Regions from separate parts of the Homo sapiens genome. Here region 2 is linked to region 1. Evidence: fine-mapped expression QTL. A gene starts in region 1. The other region holds a variant in brackets. All regions are shown on one strand. Distances are from middle to middle. Region 1 holds the start of CDK10 (cyclin dependent kinase 10). Region 2 overlaps ZNF276 (zinc finger protein 276).

Region 1 (4,379 bases):
GCTGGAGTGCAGTGGCAAGAACATGGTTCACTGCAACCTCCGCCTCCTGGGTTCAAGTGATTCTCCGGCCTCAGCCTCCTGAGTAGCTGGGATTACAGGCAGGTGCCACCACAACCGCCTAATTTTCTATTTTTAGTAGAGACTGGGTTTCACCATGTTGGCCAGGCTGGTCTTGAGCTCCTGACCTCAAGTGATCTGCCCGCCTTGGCCTCCCAAAGTGCTGGGATTACAAGCGTGAGCCACCGTACCCGGCCTCTTGGGCTTTTCTGATGAGAAAAGGTGGTGACGATACTGGGCCAATGCTTTGAAAGAAATATCAGAGGCGGCCACTCAGATACTCCCTTTCAATCCCACATACAAAAATACATCTGTGGCAGAGGCTGCTGTCCCAGCATCCCTGTATCACTACCTCCTGGAAGTTATGAAACGCTACCCAGTGGCATCTGGCCTTGGAATGTGAGCTGAAGGGACCGTGTGACTTCCAGGTGAAAGGAAGCTTTCACCTCTTCTCACCTCAGTGACGGGAAGAAAAAATGGAACCAGAATGCCTGACCCACCTGTGCAAAACAACTGCTTCTCTCCAGAATGTTAGGGGAGAGTGAAAAAAGGCATCATCTTGAGGCCCTGTATTTTGGGGTCTCTGAACTAGTAGAGTCTGTATCCTTCTCCATGGATCTAAGAAGCACATGTAAGCCGGGCGCAGTGGCTCACGCCTGTAATCCCAGCACTTTAGGAGGCTGAGGTGGGTGGATCACGAAGTCAGGAGATCTAGAGCACCCTGACTAACACGGTGAAACTCCGTCTCTACTAAAAATATGAAAAAATTAGCTGGGCGTGGTGGCGGGCGCCTGTAGTCCCAGCTGCTTGGGAGGCTGAGGCAGGAGGATGGCGTGAACCCAGGAGGTGGAGCTTGCAGTGAGCCGAGACTGCGCCACTGCACTCCAGCCTGGGTGACAGAATGAGACTCCGTCTCAAAAAAAAAAAAAAAAAAAAAAGCACACGTAGCAAGGTTTGAAACCTCACAGCCCCCATTTCCCGGCTTCCCTTCTCTTAACCCTCAGTATCAAACCTGGGCTCAAGCAATCCTCCCACCTCAGCCTCCCAGATTGCTGAGATTACAGGTGTGAGCCACTGGCCGCATTTGTCCTCAGTCTGATTCCTTCCTGACACCTGGGGACCGAGTCAGAAGCATCTGGCCTGTCACTCACTGATGGCCTAGTCTCAAACTCCCTTTCCCGCCTTAATTCCCCTTCTCACATCCTCTGCTTGTGCTCTTCTCGACACGCTTATTTCTGGGTGTCCAAATCCTTGTCACACTTCCTGAACTCAAAGAAATGCCAGGCCAGGCTGGGGGCGGTGGCTCACGCCTGTAATTCCAGCACTTGGGAGGCCGAGGCAGGAAGATCACTTGAGCCCAGGAGGCTGACGATGCACTGAGCCGTGATCACGCCACTGCATTCCAGCCTGGGCGAGAGCGCTAGACCCTGTCTCAAAAAAACAACAAAAAAGAAAAGGCCAACTCACTACTTCACCCCAGAGTCCAGCACACGGCTCTCAACGCGGTGAGCGCCTGCTGCACGTCTGGATGAGTAAAGTGTGGCTCCTGTTGTCATCCAGCCACGATCTGTTAATGATTCTTACTGAACACGTGGCTTGGCCTCTCAGAGCACCAGCCAGCAGTTAAAAACACAAACCAGCGGCCAAAGTTCAGGGCTCTCCACCCCCACCAGCCGTGCACCTGGGCAACACCGCCCAACGCCCAGAGGCTCTCTCCTGGTCTCTGCAGAGGGAGGCACCGGCACCTCCGCAAGGGACGCGCCCAGGGTTCGCGTGAAGCCGCCAGGCAGCGCTGGACCCCGCTCCATGCAGCCCAAGCCCAGCGGGAGCCTTCAAGCTCGAACTCGTCGCGGGTGTAAATTCTCCCCACAAACAAGTGGCTCGCGGCTCAGCCTGCAAAGCCCAGCTCGGGCGCTGAACCCAGCAGCGCCCGAGCTGGATCCCGGAGCTTGCTCTTCCCAAGTCCCGGGCCCGTCTCTCCGCGGGCGCGAGGCATCCCTGAGCCCGCCCCGGCCCCTCAGATCTCCAGGGACCGGCTGTCGGGGGTCCTGAGCCCGCCCCGCCCCGGCTTCCGCCCCCGCCGCGGGGAACTCTGGGACTGTCGTTCCCGCCCGTGCCGGAAGCCTCGGCGCGGCAGCGCGACACGAGGCTCCCCAGACCCAGCCGGGCAGTGCCGCTAGCGAGGCGGGCAGAGCTGCCCGGGTGGCACCCCGCGCACCCTGTGTTCCGGAGGCACCGTGAAGAAGCCCTCCTTACGAATACACTTCAGACGGATCTGCTCGCACTCCAGATCTGGCTCCGCCATGCCGAGCGCTGGCCCCGCCTCTCTTGCGCGCAGGCGCAGACGCGGACGGCCCCGCGGCGCAGGCGCGAAAGCTCCTTCCCGGGCTTCCTCTCCTTAGCAACGGTTACCAAGAGACGCTCCCGCGGGTCCGCCCTAGGCGCTGGGCTCCAGGGATCGGCTCCGACTGCTGCAGTTCGGGCCTTATTTTAGGGTGAAGCCCGGGCAGCCGACCCGGCTGCGCCGTAGTGGGAGGCCACGGCGATTACCCAGGTGAAGGTCTTCCAGGTGAGACGGGTTCCCCCAGGTAAGAAGGTCCTCCAGGTGGGAGTCCTTCATGTGGGGAGGTCCTCCAGGTGGGGGGGGAGGGTCCTCTCGGTGGGGGGTCCTCCAGGTAAGAGGATCCTCTAGGTGGGGGGGGGGGGTTCCCCAGGTGAAGGGCCCTCCAGGTAAGAGGATCCTCTAGGTGGGGGGGGGGTTCCCCAGGTGAGGGGACCTCCAGGTAAGAGGATCCTCTAGGTGGGGGAGTCCCCCAGGTGAAGGGCCCTCCAGGTAAGAGGGTCCTCCAGGTGAGAGGGTCCTCCAGCGGAGGGGGTCCCCCAGGTAAGAGGGTCCTCCAGTTGGGAGTCCTTCAGGTGGGGTGGTCCTCCAGGTGAGAGAGTCTTCCAGGTGAGAGGGTCCTCCAGGTGAGAGGTGAAGGTGAAGGTCCTCCAGGTGAGGGTCAGGTCACTTGGTCCAGGGATGTGGCTTCAGCAAGCATTTGGGTGCCTCCTCTGTGTTCAGGACATGGGGACTCCAGGAGACTGAAGGAAGCAAGTGGCAATGTCCATGCTGTCAAGTTCTGTCACAGAAATAAGCAGGAGTGAGTGAAAGACAGGAGAGAAGCTCTGTGAGGGGTGGCATTCAAGCTTAGCTTCTGGGCAGGAAGAGGCAGCTATGTCAGCATTCCCTAACAAGGTTTGGCAAAGTAGATACCTCCCCTCACTCATGGAAGACCTGACTTCCCAGGCTGGTAGAAGCTTCTCTCACAGGCACCTGCCTCTCCAATCTCTTTCACAGCCCAGCCCTGGAAGGTGGAAAAAGAAAAGTTGACATGGAATGTTTAGGAAGCACCATTGGTCCAGGTCCAGGATCGGGGCAGCCAGCATGTCCTCTAATCTGGCTTCACTGTTGAAATCCAGTCGAGCAAGCAGGGCCCAAACCACTGCGAGACCAGCTCGGTCGGGCCCAAACCACCGCCCACTGCGAGACCAGCTCGGTCGGGCCCAAACCACCGCCCACTGCGGGACCAGCTCGGTCGGGCCCAAACCACCGCCCACTGCGGGACCAGCTCGGTCGGGCCCAAACCACTGCCCACTGCGGGACCAGCTCGGTCGTGGAGACCCTAACCCAGCGGCGCTAGAGGAATTAAAGAAACACACACAGAAATATAGGGTGTGGAGTGGGAAATCAGGGGTCTCACAGCCTTCGAAGCTGAAAGCCTCGAACAGAGATTTACCCACATATTTATTGACAGCAAGCCAGTGATAAGCATTGTTTCTATAGATTATAGATTAAAAGCACTTCTTACGGGAAATAAAGGGATGGGTCTGGCTAGTTATCTGCAGCAGGAGCACGTCCTTAAGGCACAGATCGCTCATGCTATTGTTTGTGGTTCAGGAACTCCTTTAAGCGGTTTTCCGCCCTGGGTGGGCCAGGTGTTCCTTGCCCTCATTCCAGTGTGGGAGTCATGGCCATCATGAGCATGTCACAGTGCAGCAGAGATTTTGTTTATGGCCAGTTTTGCGGCCAGTTGATGGCCAGATTTGGGGGCCTCTTCCCAACAGCCCACAGCCAGACCTAGACTCCATTCAGATTGGTTTTGATCAGCATGTAGAAAATGGGGGAGTTGAGTGTGGTATACAAAATGGGGGTGTTGGCCAGGCGTGGTGGCTCATGCCTGTAATCCCAGCACTTTGGGAGTCTGAGGCGGGTCGATCACGAGGTCAGGAGATAGAGACCATCCTGGCTAACACAGTGAAACCCCATCTCCACTAAAAAA
Region 2 (4,379 bases), 42 kb before region 1:
GGGGAACCAAGTGCCCCTGGTACTCGCCGCAGTCAGGAGGCCATGCTTGCTACCACCCAGTCCTGCCTCCTGCGCAGCGGTTTCCACTGAAGTCACCCCTTTTATTAGAGACCTCTGAAAACGTATCTCCCGTGTCTCTGTTCCAAAGCACGTCTTTGTCTGCACTCCTGGGGTCCCAGAGGGACTAGTGACACAGTCTGAGTGTGCTGTCCCTGTCACAGCAGCAGGGGCTCAGCAGAGAGGACCCTCCCCTCCTGAATCTGCCTCGATCCGGAAAAGGCTCGCCTGGCTCCTCCCATCCCAGCTCCCAGCCCTCCTCACACCAGCAGCCCCAGACCTTCTGGGCAGCAAGCCAGAGACACATTCTCAGGTGTCCTGGGATTCAGACTCAACCCGGAGGGTCACGGAGTGGGGGCTTCCGTACAGCAGCCTCAGGCGGCACTCCCAGCCATGACTCCTGGGAACAAGCCTGGGGGTAGGGACCCCCGGGCACCTTTTCTGGGCCTGACCAGTTTTCTGTTCATGCTGAAGCTGCTGCAGCCCCTCTGGCTCAGTCCTGCCCTCTGCTTCGCATCTCTCTCCGGGCCTCCTCCACTGCTCCCGTTTCTCTTTTCAGAACTTAACAGCATCAGAACTTCCATGAAAAAAGGCCGTTGACCTCTCAGTCTGCACAGCAGGGTTCTAGTGGCTGACGGTGGTGCTCAGAGCCACCTGCCCTCTGGACCTTTGTTCTGGGCTGTGAAATGCTCAAGGACAGGGACTGGGTCAGTCACCAACTACCTGGGAGTGTTCTGGGTACTGCTGGGTATAGGGCTGCAAAGAAAACAGCACAAGTGAAAACCAGCCCTCACTACCAGGGCCTGTGTTCTAACTGAAGAGAGAAAATAAAAATCCCTAAAAACAAAGTCAAAACAAGCTCACAGAAGTCATTCAACAGGGAAGTGGACCGTGGCTGCCTGGCCATGGACATCAGTGATGGGGTCAGAACTGGGAGGATGACAGAGCTGGGTCCTCGGGCCTCTGGGGACGCACACAAAGCAGAAGCGACGGGTTGGGGGCTTCGGGGGTACACTGGGGTGTGAACCCAGGGCAGGACCGGCAGAAGGGACGTAAGAGCCTCCTTCTCAAGCAAGGCGGGGTTCTGTCGACAGAGACACCTGCCATCCACTGCTGGGACTCTGAGGCAGCCTCACAGTGCCGAGACCAGGTCCCAGCTCCAAAGCACCAGGAGGACCCACCTTCTCACCTGCCCGCCTGCCCCTCCCCCGCCTCCCGCTCACTGAGGGAAGCCACGTTTCACTGGGCTCGGGAGATCCGCACACGAGAGAGTGAACTGAGTGGGCACCGGGGAGAGGCCCTGGAGCACAGGCGGGTGTCTAGGTCGCCCAACGGATGCCTCCAGCAGACCCCGGGCTGCCCACTTACTTCCTTTCTGGGTAAGGCTCAAAGGACTCGTCCGAAGACTGGGCATTTTGCTTCTTGTCATTTTCATCTTCACTCAAGACGTCTCTAGGAATTAAGAGAGAATCTTCAGCAAAGCCCTGGGCCTGGGCAGTGACAGACCCAACACGACCTCCTGCCTAAAGATACCAAATGGACCCCCATGTCCCACATTTGAGTTCTTCTGAAAATGTCTTAAATCTAAAATCCCCAAATTTCCAATCCCGTTTCCGAACACAAAGGGCCAGCCAGGCTCACAAGCCAGCAATCCCCACAAGCCATGTGCTCTGGGCACCAGGACACTGGACTTGGAAACAGCCCTTTCCACAGCGGCCCAGAAGGGGTGGAGGCGCTCAAAGGTAGCTTCCTGCTAAGCAGACTTTGAGAAATCGACCACCTCACCCCATAACTGCGAACCCTATGCAACTGATGGGTTTGCCATGAGTCACTTCTAAGTTCACAAAAGTGGCTGGGTGCAGAGGCTAACTCCTGTAATCCCAGCACTT[T/C]GGGAGGGTGACGTAGGTGGATCGCATGAGGTCAGGAGTTCAAGACCAGCCTGGCCAATACCGTGAAACCCCGTCTCTACTAAAAATACAAAAATTGGCCGGGTGCGGTGGCTAACACCTGTAATCCCAGCACTTTGGGAGGCAGAGGCGGGCGGATCACGAGGTCAGGAGATCAAGACCATCCCGGCTAACAAAGTGAAACCCCGTCTCTGCTAAAAATACAAAAAATTAGCCGGGCGTGGTGGCGGGTGCCTGTAGTCCCAGCGACTCAGAGGCTGAGGCCGGAGAATGGCGTGAACCCGGGAGGCAGAGCTTGCAGTGAGCCGAGATTGTGCCACTGCACTCCAGCCTGGGCAACACAGCGAGACTCCGTCTCAAATAAAAAAAAAATAAATAAATACAAAACTTAGCTGGGTGTGGTGGCGGGCGCCTGTAATCCCAGCTACTCGGGAGGCTGAGGCGGGAGAATCACTTGAACGCGGGAGGTGGAGTTTGCAGTGAGCTGAGGTCACACCACTGCACTCCAGCCTGGGCAACAGAGTAAGGCTCGGTCTAAAAAAAAAAGTTCACAAAAGGAAAAAAAAAAAAAAAAAAAGATTTGTGGCCTTTATGCTATAACCTCAGCTGCGGTTTTGTGTCCTGGTGGTCCTGAGGACAGTCTTAGCCACCCCAGGTGCCTCCTGGCACCTGCCCGATTTCATCACTGCACATCCCACTGGGATTGGCCCCCAAACTGGGGTGTCCTCATTTGGATGAGGTGCATCTGTGTTGCAGCCAAGGTTTACAGGAGAGGGTGGAAACGGTGCAAACCCCAGCCTGGCACAGCTGCCCTGAATGGCGCTTGGCTCAGAGGCAGGGGTGGCCCAGGGAGTTTGCAGACACTGATGAGGTCCCTTCTGAGGCCCGTCCTCCTGCAACACCTCCTCGCAGAGCCTCGGCTTCAAGCCACAACAGTGTCATAGTCAAGGGCTAAAGTCGGGGTTTCTCTACTCCAGAAACATCTGGAGCGAACACAAAACTATGGCCCTAAAACAGTAGCAGAAGCAAAGGACCCAGCCAGAGTGGTTTCAACAAACTCATTTCTAGGCTGCTCTGGGTCAGAAACCCTATCAGGCTCCCTCTGGAGCTGCCTCAGGTCTGGGAGTGCTCTCTGGCACCCAGGAAACCATCAATCAGAGACAAGAAGCCTCGGAAGCTCCCCAGCCCCTCCTCTCCCGCCACCTCGAGAGGAGGCGTGTCCCAACCAGGGCACGGACAGCCGGCCCCTGTGATGGCTTAGTTTGGTACCAGCGCATGGGCAGCCGACCCTACGATGGCTGTTTGGTTTTTGAAGGAGAAATTTTAGGCTGTTTAAACCCACTCTTCTCTCACCCCTCAGAAAGGTCACTGATGGTTTTTGAAGGAGAAATTTTAGGCTGTTTAAACCCACTCTTCTCTCACCCCTCAGAAAGGTCACTGAACTCGTCTTTTACCCGATCATCCGAGGTTGAAGATGGAAGCTGCTTCTCACCCAACTGCCCTGAGAAACAAAGAACAAGGCTCCTGTTACCAACACGGAGCACAGAAAGGTCTCACCTGCAAGGAGGCATGATTCTACTATTGATGACTAGAAGGGAGACTGGGGTCCCTGACCCTCAAGTTCTCCCCACCATGGCCCCATCCCCACCAAGGGTGCTATGCAGCCTCTGATCCTGCCCTGCCAGCCCAACGTCCAGAAGCACACAGGCAGCAACAAGCATCAGAACCCTCAGGAACAGCAGAACCAGAAAGCCCAGTCCTTCCACTGACTCCGATCCAGTCCTTCTAGGACAGCCTGGACTTGGTGGATGTTCTGAGACATTTAAAAAATTACTAGGCCAGGCACGGTGGCTCATGTCTGTAATCCCAGCACTTTGGGAGGCCGATGCAGGTGGATCACGAGGTCAGGAGATCGAGACCAGCCTGGCCAACGTGGTGAAACCCCATCTCTATTAAAAATACAAAAATTAGCCGGGCATGGTGGCACACACCTGTAATCCCAGCTACCTGGGAGGCTGAGGCAGAAGAATCGCTTGAACCCGGGAGGCAGACATTGCAGTGAGCCGAGATCGCGCACTGCACTCCAGCCTGGGCAAAAGAGCAAGACTCCGACTCAAAAAAATAAAATAATTAAAAATTACTATTCTCAGTCCGGGTGCAGTGGCTCACGCCTGTAATCCCAGCACTTTGGGAGGCTGACGCGGGTGGATCACAAGGTCAGGAGATCAAGACCAACCTGGCTAACATGGTTAAACCCCGTCTCTACAAAAAATACAAAAAATTGAGCTGGGCGTGGTAACTCATGCCTGCAATTCCAGCACTTTGGAGGCCGGGGTGGGCGGATCACCTGAAGTCGGGAGGTCGAGACCAGCCTTACCAACATGGAGAAACCCCATTTCTACTAAAAAATACAAA

The links. PIP is the estimated chance that this variant, and not a neighbour inherited with it, causes the effect.
Region 2: its variant is the best candidate, but not a certain one, in a credible set for the expression of CDK10 in whole blood (INTERVAL, PIP 0.84).

What each region holds. Positions count from the first base shown.
Region 1 is chr16:89,684,694-89,689,072 of GRCh38, reverse strand. It overlaps CDK10 (cyclin dependent kinase 10), which reads right to left and starts at 2,384. Exons shown (of 13, transcript NM_052988.5): 1 at 2,276-2,384. The coding sequence starts at 2,362. LINC02166 (long intergenic non-protein coding RNA 2166) reads left to right here and starts at 2,161. Exons shown (of 3, transcript NR_184152.1): 1 at 2,161-2,626; 2 at 3,398-4,263. RefSeq lists a silencer at 1,950-2,199.
Region 2 is chr16:89,726,365-89,730,743 of GRCh38, reverse strand. It overlaps ZNF276 (zinc finger protein 276), which reads right to left. Exons shown (of 11, transcript NM_001113525.2): 5 at 3,387-3,465; 6 at 1,426-1,509. Among named protein-coding and RNA genes, the nearest start is that of ZNF276, 7.0 kb to the right of the region's middle. RefSeq lists enhancers at 1,209-1,378, 1,516-2,087. The variant T/C (reference allele first, on the strand shown) is at 1,947.